Homo sapiens: one gene and its partners. The protein of the gene in region 6 purifies or fractionates together with the protein of the main gene of each other region. This does not show direct contact. Each region holds a gene or a part of one and is shown on either strand. Other genes may lie near its edges. The genes, in order: UGGT1, AFM, SFXN4, ACSL4, TMPO, MTMR14 and SDHB.

Region 1 (3,500 bases), on a different chromosome or scaffold from region 6:
ACTTCCCGTTGTGTAAGTTGCATTCTGGTGCAGCCTGTGTTCAGTCTCTTCCTAAAACAACACTGTCGGAGAGTGAACATTCTTTTTGTAGGTTGGTTTTGTCAGTCTTGTGGTCTCTCCAGGGTGTGAGGGAAGCTTCATAACCACTCCTGCTGCAGCTCACCCGCTAGGGAAGGATGGGAAGCGCAGTCTCTTTCCTCTTACTTTCAAAGGCCGTGTGTCTGTATGAGTGTTTCAAGTGGTCTTTTTTTTACCCTTATTGTTATAGGGGCTTTACAGGACAGAAGACTGAGGAAGTGAAGCAAGATAAAGATGACATAATTAATATTTTCTCCGTTGCATCTGGTCATCTCTACGAAAGATTTCTTCGGTCAGTCTTGTTGATTATTTCATTATATATGATGAATGAATTGGTCAGTGTTCTTATTTAGAGAGGAAAGGTTTTGTGGGATTCTGCTCATTATACTCCTGTGTCTTTGAAGCACTCTGAGCATTGTGACTGGCTTGCCATTTATCATTGGATTTGTTTTGATCCCGCCGTCTCTGTGAAGTTGAACTATGTAGTGAGTGCTTCTGGATATTACAAGGCTGCAGCCCTTTAACGTCACTGTACACATTCATAGACTGTACTGTTTACTGCCTGCCAAACATTGCTTAACCCAGAGATTAGGAGGTTGACATAGAGAATAGAATCAGAACAGAACCATGGAATACTTCACTGCCTTGTAAAGATTCACAGGATTTTAGAGCCAGGAGAGAGCTTAGTTCTTACATGTGAACACTTCTGTTTTATAAACAGGCTGAGGCCCCGAGTGTGAAGGGACTTGTCTAAGGTCACACAGCTACAGCCAGAAGAGGCCACGGGCTAGGGCTGCCTGATGTAGTGGTCACCAGAGGCACTGTCAGGAAGGCCTGAGAGTCACTTTTCTCATTGCCAGGGCTCTGTTCACTCTTAATTTTTCACTACAGATCTAGTATAGAAAATCAAAATGTCATTTGTCTCATTTTTAGCCCTCTTATTTCCAAGAAATAATATCCTACCTAAAATAGTGACAATAATAACAACCGAATTTGGTTAAATTCCTCCATTCAAAAATGTGGTTTTGTTTTCTGAGTAAGGAGGCCGGAGCTGGTAGCCTTCCTCTCTAAAGCAGGGCCTCTGTGTAGGCTGCAGGAGGCGCTGTGGTTACACATTCTTCCCTTAGCACCAGATGCTGATGTCATGTGACAGGAGTTTTGGGGAGTGATGTCAGTTACCCCGATTTCCAGGGTTCATCTGGACCATAACTAATATATCAGTTCATGAAGCAGTTTATTTAGAGGTGTAACAGAATTAAAACATTTGCCTCTGTCAGTTAAGTGTAGTTTTATAGGTGAGGAATGCCCCTTCTCTTTAGTGATAACTTCATAAGTTGGAGTAAGTACAATTTTTCATTTTCCATCACTGAGCGTCTCCCTCGGCCTAATTGAGCCATTAGTTAGCTCTGCCGTAAAGAGCATTTAGGTGTCTCGTGATTGACTCTACATAATGTTGAGGTTAAATAACATTGGAAAGCTGTTATTAATTACCTGCTTTTGTTTGGCAGCATAATGATGCTATCCGTGCTGAAGAATACCAAGACTCCTGTGAAATTCTGGTTCTTGAAGAATTACTTGTCCCCCACATTTAAGGTTTGTTTCACAGAGAAAGGGAAAACATTCTTATTAAGGAGATATTTACTGTATATTTTTCATGACTTTTGTTTTATCTGTATACTTTAGCAAATTTTCCATTTACTAAGATACCCTAATTTGGTTGCATATTTTTATTTTGATTATTCTTCCAGATTGGTCTATTTGAAGGAAACAGTTAAATTGTGTTTAAAAACTTGGATGATATGGTAGGAGAGTCTTTTGTTGTTGTTATTATTAGCAGTGTCTTACTGAGATAACGTTTCCTTCCTCTGAAGCCTGCATGCTTGCTTTAATTTAGAAAGCACAGCGATGGTTTACATTGAAGAGAATGATTGGTGTTAGCATGAACCACTCCTAGATGATGTATGGAAGTAGTGCTTCCTCTGTGCAAAACAAAACACGTACTTGGAATGTTTTCTGCATTACTTATATCAGTCAGTATTTGTCATCTAAGTTGATTTATTTGCATCCTTTTTTTTTCTTGTAGAATTTACTAAGTGACTTTTAATATATTCAATAACCATTCTCCTTGATAAGCACTTTACTGCTGGCGCCTAAAGGTGCTTATACTTAGAATCTGAAAGACTTATTCAAAAAGGACAACACATTTGTCCAGAGTTCTGGCTTTGCAGTGTTATTCCCTGGGTTAGATCTGGCCTCGAGGAAGGCTTGTCATCAAGCTCAGTAAATGCCTTACTGAAATCAAGTTTAGACAAATGGACTTAAAGTTCATGTGCTGTAAAAACACACACAGAGGGATATACATCTAAAATCCTTCTCTTGAACATTCTGTCATTTCATGTGGTGACCAGAAGTCATAAAGAAATGGGGATTTGACAAAGGTTTATATCTGTTCTTCTATGTAGTCATGAGTGGGTCACGGCCGGTCTTTGTAAGACCACTGTTTTGGTAAATGTGTTTTATTTGTCCCGTATCATGGTGGTTGGCTTACATTATGAAAGCAGTTTTCTTAATCAGAAGAAATGATTATTTGTTGTTCCCATGTCTAAAAATAGGAGTTTATACCTTACATGGCAAATGAATACAATTTCCAGTATGAGCTTGTTCAGTACAAATGGCCCCGGTGGCTTCATCAACAAACTGAAAAACAGCGTATCATCTGGGGTTACAAGATCCTCTTCCTGGATGTACTTTTCCCACTAGTTGTTGACAAGTTCCTGTTTGTGGATGCTGATCAGGTAGGCCCTTAAAGGCCAAGTTTTGACAGTTTGTATTAAAAGCAACAAATTGCTTCTTTTTAAATGCTATTTTTTCCACTTATGGAAAAGGACATGCTTATTTTACATTTAGAAAATATGAAAATATGTATCACATAGATGTCATCACTTTTTAAATTTGCATTTAGCTTATCTCCTTTACATCTTTTTCTCTGTCTTTTTAACATCATTGTGATGACATAATGTGTGCAGTTTTGTATCTGACTTAATTCATTTAACATGAAAACTAAAAATTAGAAAATTAACATTTAGCAGTGCTTGCCATCATCTCTAATTATCTGCCCAAAAGATAGGAGTTATTGTCATGGGTAATAGACGAAGCTTAAGTGGATACATGGCTTTGGCAGTAGGGAACCTCCGGATATTCTTCCGGCCGTCAGGGTTTGACTTAGTGAAAGGGAACATGTGATTTTAGAGCATACAAACTCAAACAGCATAAGTGTACGTCTGCCCACAGCCTTCCACTTCAGCCCGAGCGGGCGGAAACCCAAGTCAGCCACCTGAGTGGAAGGATGTAATGTGTGTGAAAGTCACTGGGACAGAGACTTCACTCACCTCTTTGGAATTCTCTTCCACTGGCTTAGCCTG
Region 2 (3,500 bases), on a different chromosome or scaffold from region 6:
TGTAAAAGGATAATCTGAGATGAAGAAAACTAAGATTTTTAATGAACTAAGTTTGAATTGTCAGCTAACAGCCAAATTGCAGAAATAGGAAAGTCAGATATTTTTAAACTGTGTTTTATTTTGATTTAAAGATGTTTAGTTTCAATAAATAATACATTAGCATGAGGCCAGGTGCAGTGGCTCACACCTGTAATCCCAGCAAAGTCCGAAGGGTTGGATTGCTTGAGCTCAGAAGTTCAAGACCAGCCTGTGCAACATGGCAAAACGCCATCTCTACCAAAAAATACAAACATCAGCCAGGGATGGTGGCTCACGTCTGTAGCCCTAGCTACTTGAGAGGCTGACGTGGGAGGATCACTGGAGCCTGTGAGGCAGAGATTGCAGTGAGCTGAGATCACACCACTGCACTCCAGCCTGGGTGACAGAGAGACCCTGTCTCAAAAATATGTAGTAATGATAATAATAACAATAATAATAATGATAATAAAATACATTGACATAATAATTGAAAAAAACCCAAACTGCATATTATTCACAAATGCTCACAAGAGCACTAAAAAGCTAAATATTAAAGTGTTAAACACATCCTGAGTTATTTCTATAAACTCAGGTAAGATAGCCGTAAGGCAAGGCAAGGCAAACTATCTCTTCCCCAAAGAAACTGTAATGACCTGAAATATGCAGTGTCCCACTTTGAAATGGGTGAGGATGCAGGGATTCTAGATTGGCAGTGAGAAAGCCAATGTCAAACAGAAACCAAAGCATTAGAGAATCAATGTCTCCAGAATCCTGTATTTCTTTTATTTTTAGCTTCATTTCTGATAAAAGATTAATGTGACAGTTCAATAGGCATTCTTGACTTTAAAAAAAAATTCTTCCAAGAGTTTATGAATCGGCCATAACTGAAAAACTTGACAGCTAACTTTTTTACGCTTCGAGGGATTATGTATTCAATTCTAGTGGCAAGTGTTAGCCCACTTGTGCAAACAACATACTGGTATTTCAAACCATCCTTCCCCAAATTCTGGAAATGTTTACATTCTTGTTGTACCATCTTGAGGCTTTTCTCAGTTGTCTCATTGAATTTGTCTTCCTGAAAATAAGAATAATCATGGTTACAAACATTTTATCTAAAATTTAACCATAAGCTTTACATCAATGTGTAGAATAGCATTTCTTATTTCTATGGTATTTTCAAATTCTCATTATTACACTAAATTCAGGGCACTTTTTACAAGCACGTGCAAGAACTTAATTTTTTAATTATGTATATAAAAATATATTTCTTGCTAAATTTAAAAGTCCAAATTTTTTTATTATCACCTTGTACATATTTCAGAGCCTTCCAAATTACAAAACAGAATTTAAATTGTATGTTGAAAATAATAACATTCAGTTGTCACTTTGAAGTGGCAAGAGCAGTTGTTATCTCCATTTTTAAGTAAAGGCAACTGGCCTTGTGAAATTAAGTGACTTACCCAGAATACCCCAGCTAGTAAGTGTTGTTACAGAACATTTTAAATCATGTTGCTCTTTTTGATTTTTTCATTGTTTAGATTTGGAACTTAAAACCTCCAACAGTTTTCTTCAAATATTTGATGGACTATCTCTCATGTGGCATAAAATTGGACATCTTCTGAGTGGCCACCAGACAGAGAACTAAACACCAGTGGATAGCTATTGTGGAGCAAATTGTATCTCCATGAAAAGAGAGAATTTTCTAGCGCTATGATTAATTTAAGGATCAGAAACAGACTACCTCATTAGGGACAGTTACAGAGCAGGGATCCAAGTCTTATTCCATTGCTCAAATTTGAGTGGGTATAAACTGGTGTTTGTGGCAAGTGAAAAAAAATGTTTTGCTAAAGCAAAAGTAGCACATATCAAAGGAAGGAGAAATAAATCAAAAAATGTCAAATTATTAATTTCTCTAATATGTATTCAGAAATACATATGAATTTATATGAAAAACACTAATTTCAACAGGAAAATGGGTAGTACACATGAACAGATTTTTCACAGAAAATGTGTAAATAGCTAAAATCATATGGAAAAAATTTAACAATTTAAAAATCAAATAAAGGTGTTTTAAAAACACAAACACTGTTATTTACATATAAATCTAGCAAAGTTAATTTCCATGTGCAATGTTGGTAAAAGTGACATTGAAATGAGCATTTCCAAGCACTGTTGTGGGGCCAGACACCAGAAACAACTTTCTTGACAGTAATTCAACAATTTGTGTTAAATGTTTTTTAAAGTTCATATATTTTGATCCAATAATTTTCCTTCTGATAATCCATCCTAAGAAAAAAGCCATAAATATTAATAAAGATAAATGGAAGGAGACGTTCATCTCAGGGTCACTTACAAAGTGAAAAACACCCTAAGCAAACATCCAAAATGTCAAACACACAGTAGGAAATCAGTTAAATAAATTAAATAATTATGATGGGATACCATCATTTAAAAAGAAGTTTATTTTCAAGTCTGTTTAATGACGTAAAAAGTTTTCTATACTAGACACAAGAAGAGTCAAGGACTAGCTTCCCTAGAGGGAACACAGCCCTTCTGACACCTGATGTTAGCCCCATGAGACTCATTTCAGGCTTCTGGCCTCTTGTGAGAGAATAAATTTTTGTTGGTTTAAGCCGCTCCCTTTGTGGCAACAGCAGGAAACCAAGGAAGCACAATTTATAACAACAACAACAAAAAAGTTTTCTATGATACCAAATAAAAAAACAGGTCCAAACATTTTCTAGGAATTATGCCAATCTTATTTTTAAAATACACGTATATATACGTATATGTACTGAAGAGTTGAACACAAATGTTAATTATAGCTATTTCCCAGTGGGAGAATCAGAAAAGGGTTCTTTGTAACCTTTGTTGCTTTCCTAATAATCAACAACAATCAATCATTACTTTTGAAACCATAAAGAATCCAATATGGCTTAATAAAATACAGAATATTTTCCTAGTCATCTACAGCAATCATTGCTTTTGAAATCATGTAATATCCAATACGGCTTAATAAAATACAGAATACATAAAGAAAAATGTAAATTTAAAATGTTTAATGGGAAGACTTTTTTGAATTAACACATTGGATTAGTAGTCCAAAACATTATGCATCAGCCAAACTGATGACATTGGCCTTCCCAATAATCTTCTTAGGCTGAATCTACAGTGGACTCAGATTAGCCAATCACATTTTCTACCCCCAGACTGCAGCAAAACTCTGATATCAATTTTTAAGTGTTTTCTAGTTGTTCTTTTTTGATTTTCTGAACCTACAACAATGGAACCTACCGCGTAACGGTAACAACCTGGAGGGTTTTCTGTGTTGCAGCAATTTCTCAGGAGATCTTTGTATATTTGAACAATTCTTAAAAGCTCTGGTATAGACAGGTCTGGATGTCTCCTTGAGTATTCAAAAGTAAACCTGCAATGTGTAAAATTTTGTATATTAGAAATTAGAGAAAGAGCAAAAAACCCAA
Region 3 (3,500 bases), on a different chromosome or scaffold from region 6:
AGGCTGCGGAGGAGGAAGAGGGATTGGTCTTGCTGTCTCAGGGGTGACTGAGGGGGAAACAGTATATAAGTGGACCTGCATTGTTCAAACCTGCATTATTCAAGGGTTAATTGTAATGATATTTATATTTAATTCTATCCCTCAAATCTCTTGGTGCAGTTTTGGGTTCTGTTTTTCTTAACAATATTTCATAAGCCTTTTTTTCTGGGGCATAAAAAGAAATCTTTTAAAATTACTTAGAGAAATTTTAAATACTCCAAAATGTTCTATAACTACGCCCTCTCCAGTGGAACTTTCTGCAGTGATGGAAATGTTCTATAATAGATTGGTGCTGTCCAATTATGGTAGCCATGAGCTACGTGTGCTACTGAGCACTTCAGGAGAGGCTGGTGTGACTAGGGAACTGAATTGTAAATTAAGTTAAATTTTAAATTAGGTACTCTTGTGTGCTTAGTGGCTATTGGACAGCCCAGTTCTATAGATAATTTATAATATAATTTATGATGAGTCAGGCTGCTTGGACTCAGATTCCAGCTTCTCCATGACCTTGGTCAACTTGCTTAGTTTTCTTATCTGTTAAAGAGAGCTGAAGATAATGGCATCTCTGCAAAGGGTTGTTGCTTAGTAGGTAGCAAGGACATTTTTTTTTTTTTAAGTCAGAAAGCCAATTTTTTTAATTTCCAAAGCTCTGCCATAAATTGCTAGCAGATGTCAAAGACATTACTGATGCTAGCAGATATTAGCAATTTTTTTTTTTTGAGACGGAGTCTCGTTCTGTCACCCAGGCTGGAGTGCAGTGGCGCAATCTCGGCTCACTGCAAGCTCCACCTCTCGGGTTCATGCCATTCTCCTGCCTCAGCCTCCTGAGTAGCTGGGACTACAGGCGCCCGCCACCACACCCAGCTAATTTTTTGTATTTTTTAGTAGAAATGGGGTTTCACCATGTTAGCCAGGATGGTCTCGATCTCCTGACCTCGTGATCCGCCCGCCTCGGCCTCCCAAAGTGCTGGTATTACAGGCGTGAGCCACCACGCCCGGCTGATACTAGCAGTTTCTTGGCTAAACATTTCAAATGTTCATTTCTGTCACTATAAATATATATGTCCTCAAAAGCATTTATATTTATGGAATGATCTTGTTCAGAACCCACGTTTTATAGGTTTAGGTTGTAGGATCATTCATTCAAGCAACTTTGCCAGCACAACGTAGAAGTTTCAGATTATTTTAGATAGTTATGCCTATTACTATGCTATGGGCGAGGGGTTGGGGAGCGAGGCAGCATCTCAGAATAAAATTTCAGGCCAGGCACGGTGGCTCATGTCTGTAATTCCAACACTTTGGGAGACCAACGTGGGAAGATTGCTTGAGGCCAGGAGTTCCAGACCAGCCTGGGGAATGTAGTGAGACCTCGTCTCTACATAAAATGTTCTAAAAATTAGGTCGGGTGCTGTGGCTCATGCCTGTAATCCCAGCACTCTGGGAAGCCCAAGTGGGAGGATCACTTGAGCCCCGGCGTTCAAGACCAGCCAGGACAACATAGCAAGACCTCGTCTCTGCTAAAAATAAAAATTTGGCTGGGCACAGTGGGTCATGCCTGTAATCCCAGCACTTTGGGAGGCCGAGGTGGGAGGATCACTTGAGCTCAGGGTTCGAGACCAGTCTGAACCTCATCTCTCTTCTGAAAAAAATTGTTTAAAAAGAAAAAATAATAATTAGCCAGGCATGGTGGTATGTGCCTGTAGTCCTAGCTACTCAGGCAGCTGAGGTAGGAAGATCACCTGAGCATGGGAGGTCAAGGCTACAATGGGGTCACAGAGTGAGACCCTGTCTCGAAAAAAAAAAAATTAGTAGGGTGAAGCGGCACACACCTGCAGTCCCAGCTACTCAGAAGGCTGTGGTGAGAGGATCACTTGAGCCCAGGAGGGAGAGGGAAGAGTTCATCCCCAGTGGAGGATGGGAAGGGCTGAATGGGCACGTGAGGCTGCAAGGAACAGGCAGGATGCTGGGGGCCAGGTGGCAGGGCCTGCACAGCCAGGCCAAGGAGCAGGGCAGCAGGTAAGTCATGCAAGGTTGGAAGGGGCAGAACTCCCAGAGGCCAGAGTGGAGGCAGGAAAGGGAGTCAGTCTCACGCGTGACCTCAGATGCCAAGACTTGCTTGCTGGACTTTGGAAATATCCTGTTGGGGCCGGGCGTGGTGGCTCATGCCTGTAATCCCAGCACTTTGGGAGGCCGAGGCGGGCGGATCACGAGGTCAGGAGATTGAGACCATCCTGGCTAACACAGTGAAACCCCGTCTCTACTAAAAATACAAAAAAATTAGCCAGGCATGGTGGCAGGCGCCTGTAATCCCAGCTACTCGAGAGGCTGAGGCAGGAGAATGGTGTGAACCCTGGAGGCAGAGCTTGCGGTGAGCCGAGATCGCGCCACTGCACTCCAGTCTGGGCGACAGAGCAAGACTCCATATCAAAAAAAAAAAAAAAAAAAAAAATTCAAAACATTAGCTGGACGTGGTGGCGGGTGCCTGTAGTCCCAGCTACTCGGGAGGTTGAGGCAGGAGAATGGCGTGAACCCCAGAGGCGGAGCTTGCAGTGAGCCGAGGTCGCGCCACTGCACTCCAGCCTGGGTGACAGAGTGAGACTCCATCTCATTTAAAAAAAAAAAAAAAAAAGACACAAAATATCCTGTTGGCTCAAGGAGGGCATGGAGGTGCTTAGATGAGATAAGGAGTTATTACTAATTTTGTTAGGTGTGACAATGACATAGTAGTTTTGTAACTACTGTCATTACTATATCAAGTACTATATCAATAATGATAAGGTCTTTATCATTTGGAACTTGTAGGTGACATGACATGAGAATTGCCTTAAAATACTCAAGGAAAAAAATCCTACTGCTGGGTGTGGGAGGTGCTTGATGAAATGAGATCTGCAAATTGTTAATAGTGATTCCTGAGTGAGCACATGTGAGTTCATTACATTCCTTCTACATTTGTTTTTTGTTTGTTTGTGTGTTTGAGACAGGGTTTCTCACTCTGTTGCCCAGGCTGGAGGGCAGTGGTATGATCATGGCTTACTGCAGCCTTGACTCCCAGGCTCAAGTGATCCTCTGACCTCAGCCCCCCAAGTAGCTGGGACTACAGGAACGTACTACCACACCTGGCTAATTTTTTATTTTTTGTAGAGATAGGGTCCCACTATATTGCCCAGGCTGATTGCAAACTCCCCACCTCAAGCAATCCTCCTGATCTCGGCTCACTGTAACCTCCACCTCCCAGGTTCAAGTGATTCTCGTGCCTCAGCCACTGGAGTAGCTGGGATTACAGGTGTGTGCCACCACACCCAGCTAATTTTTGTATTTTTTGTACCATGTTAGCCGGGCTAGTCTTGAACTCCTGGCCTCAAGTGATCTACCTGCCTCAGCCTCCCTAAGTGTTGGGATTACAGGCATGAGCCATTGTGCCCAGCCATCTTAAAACTTTTTAATGGAAACTTTCAATTATA
Region 4 (3,500 bases), on a different chromosome or scaffold from region 6:
AGCCTCGACCTCCCAGGCTCAAGGGATCCTCCCACTTCAGCCTCTGGAGTAGCAAAGACTACAGGCACATGCCACCATGCCTGGCTTTTTTTGTTGTTTTTTGTTGTTGTTGTTGTTGTTTTGTTTTTTTTGTTTTTTTTTTAGAGACAGGGTCTCACTATGTTGTCCAGGCTGGTCTCAAACTCCTGGGCTCAAGCAATCTTCCCACCTTGGCCTCCCAAAGTGCTGGGATTATAGGCGTGAGCTGCAGTGCCCGGCCATCACTTGTCTTTTTAACTGGGTTATGATGTCTTACACTTTCCAGAAGATTTTTTAAAATATATACTTAGATTTTTAAAATATATTCTTAAGTTATTTTTGTGTATGATGAGAGATGGAGACTTATTACTTTCTAAATACACAGCCACCTGTCTTTACTCAATTTCCATTTTCAACATTACACTTAGAACACTTAAAAGAACTAAAGTGTCAACTGCTTCGTTATAAAAAAGGAAGTTGTACAAACAAAATAATAAACCAACAGTCTAAGCTCAGTTTGATAGGCTCTTACTACTATGTACTTAAAGATCACATAGCAGTTTCAGGAGCAAAAACACTACCATGCCTGGCTCTCTTATTACCGCTACAGCTCACAACAGGGTCTCCAAAAGACATCATAGACTGCATAGAAGTCTATCTGCAGCTTACTGATTGCCACACATGTAAATTCACATTCACATTTAAATAACCCACACTTAACAACAAAATCAACCGTCTCAACTCTCTATGCATTCCTTATTGCTGCTCCTAGACCACAGTGCTTTGGAGACTTAGTAAAGAAAATGAATGCACTCTCCTGAATCACAATATCACCTGGAAATGTAACCAGAAGGTATAAAAAGTCAGGGTAGTTTGTTAAATTGTGTGTGTGTGTGTGTGTGTGTGTGTGTGTGTGTGTGTGTGTGTGTGTGTGTAATCAACAATTTATAAGGTTACCTTATCTCTGGGGTCAGCACTTTTTCTGTAAAGGTCCAGAGAGAAAATTGGCTTCACGGGACATAAGGGCTCTGTTTCAGCTCTGATGTTGTATTGTGAATGCGGCCAGAAAACACATAAATTAATGGATGTGGCTATATTCCAAGAGAAGTTTATTTACAAAAACCGGTGGTGGGCAGGATTTGGCCACAGGCAGTATTTTGCCAGCCCCTGCCTTATACCAATGTTTTATCTTTTTCAAATAACAATCTACTTCCCTCACTGCACACATATTTGAGTAAATATAGTAACACTGAAGGGACAAATAATTTCAGTACTGCCTTACAGAAATGAATATTCTCAAAATTAATCACTAACCTTTTCCTATAATTCCTTCTCATATGAGCACATACATTTTTCAAAATATAAAACTGTAAACATCACCTTGAACCTAATATTTATTTCAAAAGACAGTTACAATGAGTGTCATGTAGCTGCTATAAAAGGAAAAATGCAGTCTAGACAGTCAAATACAATGATCTTTTATTCATTATTCTCATAATCAACAGTGAGTAGAAAAGTCTGCTAAATACATGGTCATGAATCATAACTTCACTACTCAAAATGCAGAAGTAGACTTTCAAAGTACATTTAAATAAGAACACAAATTTGTTTTTTGGATTACTTACCAAAATCCTTGATGGAAAATGATACAGTTTTGCCAAAATATTTTTAATTTAGAAAGTGAAACCAAAAACCTCTTTAGCATATCATGCGTCTATTTAATTTTAAAATACAAATTTTAATGTTGCATTTGACAGCCTGGTGAGGTAGACATTATATTTTTAAGGCAGCCATTTTAATATAGTGAGAGCATGTGTGAATATGTATTAACATTCTAAGCCATTAAGGCCACTTGTTCACAGAATATATTTGAGCTCTAAAATTGTTGAAAGAGAAAATGCTCAAATAGCTTACAGAAATAATGGATGTTATACAGAACAGAAAGGAATCAAATTAAATAACAAAAGTTTGTAAGATTTCTTGACACCAAAAGCACAGTCCATAGAGGAAAAATTAATAAACTGGACCTCATCCAAATTAAAGCCTTTTGCTCTGTGAAATTCCCTGTGAAGAGGTTGGAAAGACAAGCTACAGACTGGGAGAACATATTTTCATACCACTACCTGACAAATGATTAGTATTAAGAATAAAAAGGCCAGGGGCGGTGGCTCACGCCTGTAATCCCAGCACTTTGGGAGGCCGAGGCGGGTGGATCATGAGGTCAGGAGATCGAGACCACCCTGGCTAACACGGTGAAACCCTGTCTCTACTAAAAATACAAAAAAAAAAAAAAATTAGCCAGGTGTGGTGGCGGGTGCCTGTAGTCCCAGATACTTGGGAGGCTGAGGCAGGAGAATGGCGTGAATCTGGGAGGCAGAGCTTGCAGTGAGATTGCACCACTGCACTCCAGCCTGGGCAACAGAGCGAGACTCCGTCTCAAAAAAATAATAAAAAACTCTTAAAACTCACCAGGTTAAAAAAAAAATCCAAATAGAAAATGGACAAAAGACATGAACTGATATTTCACTGAAGATACAGAGAATGGCAAATAAACACATGGAAAAATGATCAACATCATTGGCGATCAGAAAAATGCAAATTAAAACTAGGAGGATATATTACTACACACCTATGAGAATGGCTAAAATAAAAAATAGTAACAGCACCAAATGCTGTCAAGGATGAGGAGCATTCACACATTCCTGGTGGGAATGTAAAATGGTACAGCCACTCTGGAAAATGGTTTGGCAGTTCCTTAGAAAACTAAACATGCAAGTGCTATACCACCCAAGAAGTACACTCTCAGGCATTTCAGAAATTTATGTTCACACAAAATCCTGTGGACAACTGTTCATATGAGCTTTATTCAAAATAGGCAATAAATAAATAAATAAATAAGTAAAACAAACAAAAACCCTGGAAACATCAGATGCCCTTCAAGAGGTGACTGGTTAAACAAACTGCAGTAAATCCATATTATGGAATACTACTCAGCAATGGAAAGGAACAAGCCATTGATAAAAGGTATATTCCTTGCACTAATCTCCAAGGAATTATGCTGAGTGAAGTAAAGTCAGTCTCCAAAGGTTATATACTGTGTGATTCATTTATATAAGCATTTTTGAAATGACAAAATTATAGACATGAAAAACAGATCAGTGGTTGCCAGGAGTCAGGGATGAAGGGAGATGGCTACATCTATAAAAAGACAACAAAAAGGATCCTTGTGGTGATGCAATTGTTCTGTATCTTGACTGTGGTAGTGCTTATATAAATCTACACGTGATAACATTATGTAGAACTAAATACATACATGCAAATGACTGCATTAAAGGTGACGAAATCTGAGTAAGGTTGATGGATTGCATCGATTTCAATTTTGTAGTTGTGATGTTACACTATACTTATGCATGAGGCTATTATTGGGGGAAATTAGATAAAGCGTATTATTTCTTACAACTATATGTGAATCTACAACTATC
Region 5 (3,500 bases), on a different chromosome or scaffold from region 6:
GTGGTATGATCATAGCTCACTGCAGCCTCAAACTCCTGGGCTCAAGCCTCTGGAATAGCTGGGACTACAGGTGTGTGCCACCATGCCTAGCTGATTTTTAAAATTTTTATAGAGATAGTCTCACTATGTTGACCAGGCTGGTCTTGAATTCCTGGCCTCAAGGGATCCTCCTGCTTAGGCCTCCCAAAGCGTTGGGATTGTAGGTGTGAGCTGCTGCTCCTGGCCAAATTATGAATTCTCAATAGGAAATATTTGAAGACCTGGAAAAGAACATAAAAGCATGCTACCAATAGGAAATGTTAATTAAATCACAAATTTACCACCACTGTATAATAAGGTGTTAAGTTTACAGACTTGTGAATAATAGAGTTATAGATTCAAATTCCAGGTCTGCCACTTATTCATATGACACTGAACAGTGTCTTAATCTAAGATCCTCTATTTTCACCTGAAATAGAGGAATAACCTAATAGCTACTTAATCAGATTGAGGAGTACATGCCATTGCATATGTGAAGTGTCTAGTGCTTAGTAATTAATAGCCATTAAATGATTTCTGAATTTTTGTCTTTAATGTCAGGGCAATATAGTGCAATGTTACTAAAATATAATTTTGGGAAACGAATAAGGTAGATAAGTGAAAGTGACATGTATATCATAGCATGCAGATTTCCTGAGTTAGTGAAGAGCATGCTTGAACCTCAGTTTTCTGAGTTGTCAGATGGGGATATTAGCATTTTATTCCATAGATTTTTAGGACTCTGTAAGTTAATGCAAAGACACTTGGAACACAACTCAGTACGTAATACATAATAAGTGCCCACTAGAATATATTGTTATGGTTCAACATCTTTATACTAGAGGTAGAGATTAAAGGAATTAGAGAAGCTCATCGGTGATATCATAGAGCTGTTGGGTTTTGAAGTTGAAAAATACGTTAGAGATCATCGGGTAGCATAGTAGGTACTATTTTTGAGTGAAACTCTTAAGTGATCTACTTAAAGGAACAAAGCTTTCTGGAGGCAGAATTTAATGCAACTGATGCTTCCTTTTTCCTGACTGAAACTGCTAATCATGTACAGCACACTGTCTCCTAATTTTTTATCCTTATTAAATCTGAGATTTATAAAATGACATCACTTTTCTGGAACTTTTTTCCTGACAGATTAAAAACCACATGTTTGACTGTGTGCAGTGGCTCACACCTGTAATCCCAGCACTTTGGGAGGCCGAGGCAGGTGGATCACCTGAGGTCAGGAATTCGAGACCAGCCTGGCCAACATGGTGAAATCCTGTCTCTTCTAAAAATACAAAAATTAGTTAGTCGGGTATGGTGTTGCGCGCTTGTAATTTCAGCTGCTTGGGAGGCTGAGGCAGGAGAATCTCTTGAACCTGGGAGATGGAGGGCATGCCACTGCACTCTAGCCTGGGCAACAGAGTGAGACTCCATCTCAAAAAAAAAAAAATCACGTTTTTGGTTTTAATTTATCTGACTTACCTTATGTAGATTTGTTGGTCACTTATTTAAGATATCTTTGTTCAGCTGATGTTTTTCATTATGTTTGAAGGAAATATAATTGATTTTCTTTCTTTCTTTTTTTTCTTTAGGCGAAGTCTGGCCTTATCACCCAGGCTGGAGTGCAGTGGCGCAATCTTGGCTCGCTGCAATCTCCGCCTCCCCAATTCAAGTGATTCTCCAGCCTCAGCCTGCCGAGTAGCTAGGACTATAGGCGTGTGCCATCACACCTGGCTAATTTTTGTATTTTTAGTAGAGATGGGGTTTCACCGTGTTGGCCAGGCTGGTCTCAAACTCCTGACCTCAACGGGAGATCCTCCCTCCTCGGCCTCCCAAAGTGCTAGAATTACAGACATGAGCCACTGCCGAGAATTGGTTTTTACTTAGATTTGATAGGCCTGTTATTTCTAATAAGAAATGGATTTTCAAAAATAAATTACTTTTTCCTTCCCCAGATTTGACAAAACATTTATCAGGGGGCTATTCCTGTATCAGTCTTTTTAGAAATGTTTAGATGCTTGGAATAAGAATATGAGGATGATAGTGCGTCTGCTTTCTGTTGCTTGCCTCAATGCTGCATCCAGATCACCTGGGCTACACAATTACAAACAGATTATCTGGCCCAAGGTGAAGAATCAGAAATGGGTAAGACCTTTCCAAATAGAGGTAACAAGAGTTAAGATTTTGGGCTGGGTGCTGTGGCTCACGCCTGTAATCCCAGCACTTTGGAAGGCTGAGGTGGGCAAATCACGAGCTCAGGAGTTTGAGACTAGCCTGGCCAAAATGGTGAAACCCTGTCTCTACTGAAAGTACAAAAATTAGCTGGGCGTGGTGGCATGCACCTGTAGTCCCAGATACTCAGGAGGCTGAGGCAGGAGAGTTGCTTGAACCTGGGAGGCAGAAGGTTGCAGCAAGGCAAGATGGCGCTACTGCACTCCAGCCTGGGCGAGAGAGTTAAGAGACTCCACCTTGAAAAAGAAAAAAAAAAAAGAGTTAAGATTTTTTTTGAGACAGAGTCTTGCTCTATCGCCCAGGCTGGAGGGCAGTGGCATGATGTCGACTCACTGCAACCTCCGCCTCCCAGATTCAAGCAATTCTCCTGCCTCAGCTTCCCAGGTAGCTGGGATTACAGGCATGTGCCACCACACCCGGCTAATTTTTGCATTTTTAAAAGAGACGGGGTTTCACCGTGTTGGCCATGCTGGTCTCGAACTCCTGACTTCAAGTGATCCACCCACCTTGGTCTCCCAAAGTGCTGGGATTACAGGCATGAGCCACTGCACCTGGCCCAAAGAGATTTCTTGAAAACCTCTCAGGCGGGTTTGAAAAGTTGGAATTTCCTGGATGTTTTATTGATAGTAAATTTGAACATTCTCGTGGTAGTGGGGATTATGTACAAATAATTTGAACCTGATTGATTGTTTTTCCATGTTTTATTTTTATTTTAAGCATTATTTAGTTTTTCTGTACTACCTGACTGCACTTTTTGGAAAATTTGAGTAAGTCAGTAACATAGGATTAAGTTTGTTTGATTAAATCTTTTCTTGAAAGAAATAAGTCTTAGAACTCTTAGACCCTAGGCAACTATTTGGATATTATGGTGTGGGTTGCTTCCAGATATGAGCCTGACAGTTCTAGGTCAGTGCAATGTATGTGAATTAAAGCCTGCTAAAAGTACTCTCACTGTAACTCTCCACAGCCGTCTATTTAAGATTTCTCGTAAGTTGACATAATTGTTCTTATGAGCAGCTATTTTTTTGGTGAAGGTTTTTTGGCTTCTGATTATAGAATGATTAGCCATTAGCAGCTTTTTAAAAAGAATTTCTCATATCTTGCTTTATTTGAAGTATTTCAGGCCAGGTTCCATGGCTCACGCCCGTAATCCTAGGACTTTGGGAGGCTCAGGCGGGCATAACATTTGGGGTCAGGAGTTCAAGACCAGCCTGGCCAACATGCTGAAACCCCGTCTCTACTAAAAATACAAA
Region 6 (4,227 bases):
AAGGCATAAGAACTGTAACATCAAGAAGTTTGCAAGAGGGCCAGGCATGGTGGCTCACGCCTATAATCCCAGCACTTTGGGAGGCACCGAGGAGGGCAGATCACTTCTGATCAGGAGCTTGAGACCAGCCTGGCCAACAGGTGAAACCCTTTCTCTACTAAAAATACAAAAATTAGGCTGGGTGCAGTGGCTCATGCCTGTAATCCCAGCAGTTTGGGAGGCCAAGGCGGGCAGATCACGAGTTCAAGAGATTGAGATAATCCTGGCCAACATGGTGAAACCCCATCTCTATTAAAAATATAAAAATTAGCTGGGCATGGTGGCGGGCGCCTGTACTCCCACCTACTGGGGAGGCTGAAGCAGGAGAATCGCTTGAACCCAGGAGGCGGAGGTTGCAGTGAGCCGAGATCACGCCATTGCATTCCAGCCTGGGCGACAGAGTGAGACGCCATCTCAAAAAAAAAAAAAAAAATTAGCCAGGCATGATGGTGCATGCCTGTAGTCCCAGCTACTAGGGAGGCTGAAGCAGGAGGATCGCTTGAATCCAGGAGGTGGAAGTTGCAGCGAGCCAAGATCGCACCACTGCACTCCAGCCTGGGTGACAGAGGGAGACTCCTTCTGAAAAAAAAAGTTTGCAAGAAGTTAGTCCAAAGGTAGTGAGTTATCTCAATCGATTGTTCAGTTACAGATCTAACTCCCTGTTCTGCCTGAATTGTTATAAATACATATAAATATATATACATCTAAGTTTGCAGGAGATCAGAAGGCCTGGAGAGATAATTAAGGCCAGCCGCAGCCAATATGAGGTGTAACTTATGCTAACCCTAATCTTCAGGGTCATGTAAGTTGGAAGAGGGGTCCAGAAAAACCAATGACCTACAGCCACTCAAAAGACCCTTACTGGCCAGGTGTGGCGGCTCACGCCTGTAATCCCAGCATTTTGGGGGGCTGAGGTGGGAGGATTGCTTGAGCTTAGGAGTTTGAGACCAGCCAGGGCAATATAGCGAGACCATGTCTCTAGGAAAATAAAGAAAAATTAGCCAGGCATGGTGGTGTGTACCTGTGGTCCCAGGTGCTTGGCAGGCTTAAGTGGGAGGATCGCTCAAACCCAGGATTTCGAGGCTGCAGTAAGTCATGGTTGCACCACTGCAATCCAGCCTGGGCAGCAGAGCGAGACCCTGTCTCAACACAAAAAACAAAAACAAACAAACAAAAAAGCCAGGCGCGGTGGCTCACGCCTGTATCCCAGCACTTTGGGAGGCTGAGGTAGGCGGATCACCTGAGCTCAGGAGTTCAAGACCAGCCTGGCCAACCTGGGGAAACTCCATCTCTACTAAAAACTACAATAATTAGCTGGGCGTGGTGGTGGGGTCCTGTAATCCCAGCTACTTGGGAAGTTGAGGCAGGGAGAATTGCTTGAACTGGGGAGGCGGAGGATGCAGTAAGCTGAGATTGCGCCACTGCACTCCAGCCTAGGCGACAAAGCGAGACTCCTTCTCAAAAGAAAAAAAAAAAAAAAGCAAATTCCAGGATCCCACCCCCAGAAATTCTGACTTGGTAGGACTGGGTGGGACTAAGGAATCTCTGTTTTCACAAAGTATCCCATAAGCACAAATTTTAAAAGTACCCCAGATGATCATTAAACAGGTGGTCCCCAGACTATACTTGGAAAAATTACTTGGCCATTTGGAGAGTGAGGAAGTCCAATCCTTACTGAAGTCTTCCCTGGGTTACTTCAGAGACTACAAGATGCCAACTACAGAATAGCAACTCACGGTAATCTCTGAGGTCAAATCAGAGTTCTGTGGTGCAGGATGGAACAGAATTCCACTGGAAAACTTGGTGCTAAAGCTGCCAAAACCACGTGGGGGAATGAGATGGCAGGGTCGGCAAGATTCCCACCGCACTGCCAGCCAGTGCTTAGGGTGGGGATGGCCTGAGCTGACAGGAAGCCCTCCAGGTCTGGCGATAAGACGACTGGGTGGAAATCCCAAAGGGAGCAAAAAGAGGAACGGAGACCTGCTTTAGATAAAGGAACTGAAAGGGAGTGTGGGTTGTCTTCCTGCTCTATAGGGGAAGGAAAGGGATGGGCCTAAGTCATGCTGAGACCTTATAAGGGGGCAGCACACTGGGTTCACCTCCTGGCTCCATTCTGACCTCTGACCCCGAGGAATCGTCTCCCTATTTTTCTTAGCTTTTTCTTGGGGCTTTTTCCCTGACACAACTCATCCTACGGCACCTGAAGCAGGGAATAGACCTTCCTTAGGTCCTCCTCTCTGATCTTTGAACCTGGCCCCTCAGCTTGATCTCTCACCTCCAGACCCCTTCTCAAACAAGAAGGACCTCTTTGCTGGGCTCATTCTGACCCCAGTTCCTCCTTTTATGGTTGTCAAGACCGACTCTTATACTCCGGATACAGACCCTGGAGAACTCCTCTCTCTCTCTCCTCTTCCTCAGCGGCGAGGTACCACTCCTACCTTTTTCTGACCCCTGGCCTCAGCCTTTCCTCTGTAACTTCCCAAGTTAGGAGCCTTCCCCAGCTCATCGCACCTCCAATCTCACCTTAGAGCCGCCGGTCCCGCTGCCATCCTTGGCCCGGTACTGAGTCCGGGAGAACTCCTCCAGCAGCTCCCCAAGCCCCAGCTCCTGAGGCGGCTGGTTGCCTGAAGAGGCCGAGGACCCCGCCGAGGCAGCGGCGGCGGCGGCCCGAGCGCCGGCCATGGCCCAGCCCCGCGTCCCCTCAGTGTGCCTCAAGCGGGCCCATGGCACCTGCCTGCACCCAACTCCGACACTAGAACCTCCGGAACCGCCTCAGCCACCGCCTTCTACTTCCACTTCCACTTCCGGCCCCGCCCCGTCCCGCCGGATGTTTACTCCGACTCTGGCCAATCGGAGCTCTGGACCCGCGCCCCGCCTACGATTACTGGCCCGCCCCCGGCGCAGAGCGATCCTTCTATCCACCAGGGAGGCCACTGGCTGATACCGCGTGATCCGCCCCAAGGGGTTTCCCCCGGGGAAGCCGGGCTCAACCATTGGGCTGCCGGGGGAGGGGGGTAGCAGGAAGGAACCATTGAAAAGAACCAGAGGAAAAGTGGAATCAACAATTACAGGGAAGCCGAGCGTGGTGGCTCACACCTGTCATCCCAGCACTTTGGGGGGCCGAGGCGGGCGGATCACTTGAGGCCAAGAGTTCGAGACCAGGCTGCCAAAATGGTGAAACCGCATCTCTACTAAAAATAAAAAAATTAGCCGGGCATGGTGACACCCACCTGTAATCCCAACTACTTGGGAGGCTGAGGCAGGAGAATCGCTTGAACCCATGAGGCTGAGGTTGCAATGAGCCGAAATCGAACCACTACACTCCAGCCTGGGTGACAGAGCAATACTCTGTCTTAAGAAAAAAAAAAAATTACAGGGCGAGGAGGAGAGAACGCTTGGAGGCAACAAATTAGTACTAGAAACCATAATGGCAGTGGTTACCAATATTAAAACATTTCAGCCGGCCGCGGTGTCTCACGCCTGTAATCCCAGCACTTTGGTAGGCCGAGGCAGGCGGATTATGAAGTGAGGCATTCGAGACCAGCCTGATCAACGCAGTGAAACCCCGTCTCTACTAAAAATACAAAAATTAGCCGCGCGTGGTGGCAGGTGCCTGTAATCCCAGCTACTCGGGAGGCTGAGGCAGGAGAATTGCTTGAACCCGGGAGGCGGAGAGTGAGCCGAGATCGCGCCACTGCACTCCAGCCTGGGTGACAGAATGAGACTCCGTCTCTAAAACAAAAACAAAAACACAACATTTCATAAAACCCTTTCTCCCCCTGCTGCTCACAACATCCCTGTGAGTACAGTGCATTATATCATCAGCCCTATTTTATTGAGGTAGAAACTGGGAGTCAGGGAGGTGAAGCGACTGCCTTGAAATTCTGTGATGAGAAGCCTCTCATTATTATTATTATTAGAATATTTCAGACATTCGCAAAAGTGGAGACAATAGTATAATGAACCCTCATGTACCCATTAACTGGTTTTGAACAATAATCAACATCTGCTTATCTATCCTGTTTAAGCAGTCCCTTCCCATCCAGGGAATTATTTTAAAGCAAATCCCAGACATCACATTATTTCAGCTGTGAATACTTAAGCATTTATCACAACAGATTTGTACTTCAAAAAAAAAATACATAAAAAATATAAGGCTATTAACATGCCTAAGAAAATTAACAATAT
Region 7 (2,405 bases), on a different chromosome or scaffold from region 6:
AGCTGGGTAGGAAGCTATTGAGCAATGTGAAATAATTAGGAGATGATACCCAGTGTGTATAATTAAGCACCCGGGTACCAGGTGCAGTATGGATCAAAGGTTTGCAGGGACCATTAATCAAGTGAAGCTACAAGTGTTGGGAACCTTTCCTTGAAAGATGGACAAGAATTAAAGAGTATGGAGATGAGGCATCTAAGCTGAGTGAATTCCCTTTCCTCTGCACTCCCAGAGCTTTGAGTTGAGCCAGGGTGCCGCTCTGGCCTGTTGATTGGCAGCTCAGCTAATCATCCCTGGTTTTCCAGGCCTATCGCTGGATGATTGACTCCAGAGATGACTTCACAGAGGAGCGCCTGGCCAAGCTGCAGGACCCATTCTCTCTATACCGCTGCCACACCATCATGAACTGCACAAGGACCTGTCCTAAGGTACGTGGGGCTGGTGACCCTCAGCTCTGCCTCAGAGCTGACACGCCAGAAGTAGCATGTGCTCACAAAGAGGTGATTGGCAGAGAGCAACCCTAGTCATTTGAGAAGGAAAGGGACCAGCATATGCCTGTCCTTTCAGTGTGAGCCTAGGGGCTAGTTTGGCTCTTAGTTGCAAGGAGTAGACTGACTCGGGCCACCTCAGGAGCAGGCTTTATTTGTAGGCTACACAGGGACATTGTGGGAGTTAAGGATGCACAGGAACCCATGAGCAGGTACCTGCGTTCAACCTTCCCAGGAAACAGAAAGCGAAAGCCGTTGGAACGTGGGCAGCTGTGAGGACTTCATTTCTTCTCCATCTTTCTCGCGATGTCAGCTGCTAATCTGCTCTGCTCTCTAGCAGCCTGTTCTTTCCTTCGGCTCTGTGGAGGTTTTCTCTGACTCAAAGCTCTGGCTTTCGTTCCTCTTCCTGCTCGCATTTGCTGCTGCTTTTGGCTCACTCTGGCCTGGATTTTGCCTCCCAGCACACTTCCAGCTTCAGCCACCCGCCTGCCTCCCAGCACTTCTCAGCACAGTTTCCTGAGAGGGTGTCGCATTGGCCCAGCTCACCTTCTCATGCCTGCACATCAGAGGCCACAGCTGGCTACAGACCGGCTGCCCTTTGGCCAGGTTCTGTCTCAGTCTGTTTTGTGGTACTATCACAGAATTTCAGACTGGGTAATTTTATAAAGAAGTTTATTTGACGCACAGCTCTAGAGGCTGGCGCCAGCATCTAACAAGAACCTTCGTGCTGTATTACCCCATGGCAAAAGGCAGAAGGGCAAGAGAAAGGGAGCCCAAGCTCAGCCTTTTTTTTTTTTGGAGACAGAGTTTCGCTCTTGTTGCCCAGGCTGGAGTGCAATGGCACGATCGATCTCAGCTCACCACAACCTCCGCCTCCCAGGTTCAAGTGATTCTCCTGCATTCGCCTCCCGAGTAGCTGGGATTACAGGCAGGCACCACTCATGCCTGGCTAATTTTGTATTTTTAGTAGAGATAGGGTTTCTCTATGTTGGTCAGGCTGGTCTCGAACTCCCGACCTCAGGTGATCCACCCACCTTGGCCTCCCAAAGTGCTGGGATTACAGGCGTGAGCCACCGCGACCGGCCCCTCTCATCTGTTTTTTTTAAAAGACAGGGTCTCACTGTGTTGCCCAGGCTGGGGTGCAGTGGCGCAATCATAGCTCACTGCAGCCTGGAACTGCTGGCCTTAAGTGATCCTCCTACCTCCTGAGTAGCTGGGACTACAGGCACACACCACCACACCTGACTAATCCAAACTCATCCTTTTATCAGGAACTTACTCCTATGATAATGGCAATCCATTTGTGAGGGCAGAGCCTTCATAATCTAATCACTTCTTAAAGGTCCCACCTCTCAATACTGTTGCATTGGGGATTAGGTTTTCAACACATGAGCTTTTGGGGACACATTCAAACCATAGCAGGTGTCAGCCCTGGTCCAGTCAGCCTTGCCCAGTGGGCAGGGAAGGGCTAGGGCTGTGTGGTTCAGAACACGGCTGCCCTCCGAGCAAAGACTGTGGGTGATTTCACTCAAAAGTTGCAGTGAGTCAGTGGGCGGCAAGGTGGAAAACTGTAGGGTGGCCAGTTAGCCGTAAAAAAAGATCACACTGTGTGTTTGAAAACATGAAATCCAAGCTGTAGAATTCACTTATTTTTTGCCTGGAAACCCTCTGTGTTTCCAGTGGCCTCGCTGGGGGAGCCCACAGGCTTCAGCTCCCTATTGCCTGGGCTTCCATCTGGGTCCTGTCCCCAGGACTGTGGTTTACCATGATTGTGCCTGTGAATAGCTACTGACCTCTGAGGCAAGTTATGCTATAAAAGTGCTTGGAACAGTGCCTGGCACATAGTAAGCACCCAATAAATGTCACCTTATGTTATTTTTTAAAAAAACATGAGTACTGGGCTTGTTTGAGACAGAGATA

The links.
Region 1: the proteins of MTMR14 (region 6) and UGGT1 purify together in Homo sapiens (affinity purification with mass spectrometry, with the first as the bait; one large-scale study listed by BioGRID). This does not show direct contact.
Region 2: the proteins of MTMR14 (region 6) and AFM purify together in Homo sapiens (affinity purification with mass spectrometry, with the first as the bait; one large-scale study listed by BioGRID). This does not show direct contact.
Region 3: the proteins of MTMR14 (region 6) and SFXN4 purify together in Homo sapiens (affinity purification with mass spectrometry, with the first as the bait; one large-scale study listed by BioGRID). This does not show direct contact.
Region 4: the proteins of MTMR14 (region 6) and ACSL4 purify together in Homo sapiens (affinity purification with mass spectrometry; 2 studies listed by BioGRID and IntAct, with this or other methods). This does not show direct contact.
Region 5: the proteins of MTMR14 (region 6) and TMPO purify together in Homo sapiens (affinity purification with mass spectrometry, with the first as the bait; 2 studies listed by BioGRID). This does not show direct contact.
Region 7: the proteins of MTMR14 (region 6) and SDHB purify together in Homo sapiens (affinity purification with mass spectrometry, with the first as the bait; one large-scale study listed by BioGRID). This does not show direct contact.

What each region holds. Positions count from the first base shown.
Region 1 is NC_000002.12:128,178,200-128,181,699, forward strand, and holds part of UGGT1 (UDP-glucose:glycoprotein glucosyltransferase 1 precursor), read left to right. Parts: intron 1-268; coding exon 269-370; intron 371-1,586; coding exon 1,587-1,671; intron 1,672-2,690; coding exon 2,691-2,873; intron 2,874-3,500. UniProt on the Homo sapiens protein: Recognizes glycoproteins with minor folding defects. Reglucosylates single N-glycans near the misfolded part of the protein, thus providing quality control for protein folding in the endoplasmic reticulum.
Region 2 is NC_000004.12:73,495,245-73,498,744, reverse strand, and holds part of AFM (afamin precursor), read right to left. Parts: intron 3,446-3,500; coding exon 3,313-3,445; intron 1,094-3,312; coding exon 996-1,093; intron 1-995. UniProt on the Homo sapiens protein: Functions as a carrier for hydrophobic molecules in body fluids. Essential for the solubility and activity of lipidated Wnt family members, including WNT1, WNT2B, WNT3, WNT3A, WNT5A, WNT7A, WNT7B, WNT8, WNT9A, WNT9B, WNT10A and WNT10B. Binds vitamin E.
Region 3 is NC_000010.11:119,141,715-119,145,214, reverse strand, and holds part of SFXN4 (sideroflexin-4), read left to right. Parts: intron 1-2,841; coding exon of another isoform or gene 2,842-2,850; exon of another isoform or gene 2,851-2,962; intron 2,963-3,500. UniProt on the Homo sapiens protein: Mitochondrial amino-acid transporter. Does not act as a serine transporter: not able to mediate transport of serine into mitochondria.
Region 4 is NC_000023.11:109,726,758-109,730,257, forward strand, and holds part of ACSL4 (long-chain-fatty-acid--CoA ligase 4), read right to left. Parts: intron 1-3,500. UniProt on the Homo sapiens protein: Catalyzes the conversion of long-chain fatty acids to their active form acyl-CoA for both synthesis of cellular lipids, and degradation via beta-oxidation. Preferentially activates arachidonate and eicosapentaenoate as substrates.
Region 5 is NC_000012.12:98,522,090-98,525,589, forward strand, and holds part of TMPO (thymopoietin), read left to right. Parts: intron 1-3,500. UniProt on the Homo sapiens protein: May help direct the assembly of the nuclear lamina and thereby help maintain the structural organization of the nuclear envelope. Possible receptor for attachment of lamin filaments to the inner nuclear membrane.
Region 6 is NC_000003.12:9,648,078-9,652,304, reverse strand, and holds the start of MTMR14 (phosphatidylinositol-3,5-bisphosphate 3-phosphatase MTMR14), read right to left. Parts: upstream 2,801-4,227; 5' UTR 2,722-2,800; coding exon 2,563-2,721; intron 1,978-2,562; coding exon of another isoform or gene 1,776-1,977; intron 1-1,775. UniProt on the Homo sapiens protein: Lipid phosphatase that specifically dephosphorylates the D-3 position of phosphatidylinositol 3-phosphate and phosphatidylinositol 3,5-bisphosphate, generating phosphatidylinositol and phosphatidylinositol 5-phosphate.
Region 7 is NC_000001.11:17,020,628-17,023,032, reverse strand, and holds part of SDHB (succinate dehydrogenase [ubiquinone] iron-sulfur subunit, mitochondrial isoform 1 precursor), read left to right. Parts: intron 1-302; coding exon 303-425; intron 426-2,405. UniProt on the Homo sapiens protein: Iron-sulfur protein (IP) subunit of the succinate dehydrogenase complex (mitochondrial respiratory chain complex II), responsible for transferring electrons from succinate to ubiquinone (coenzyme Q).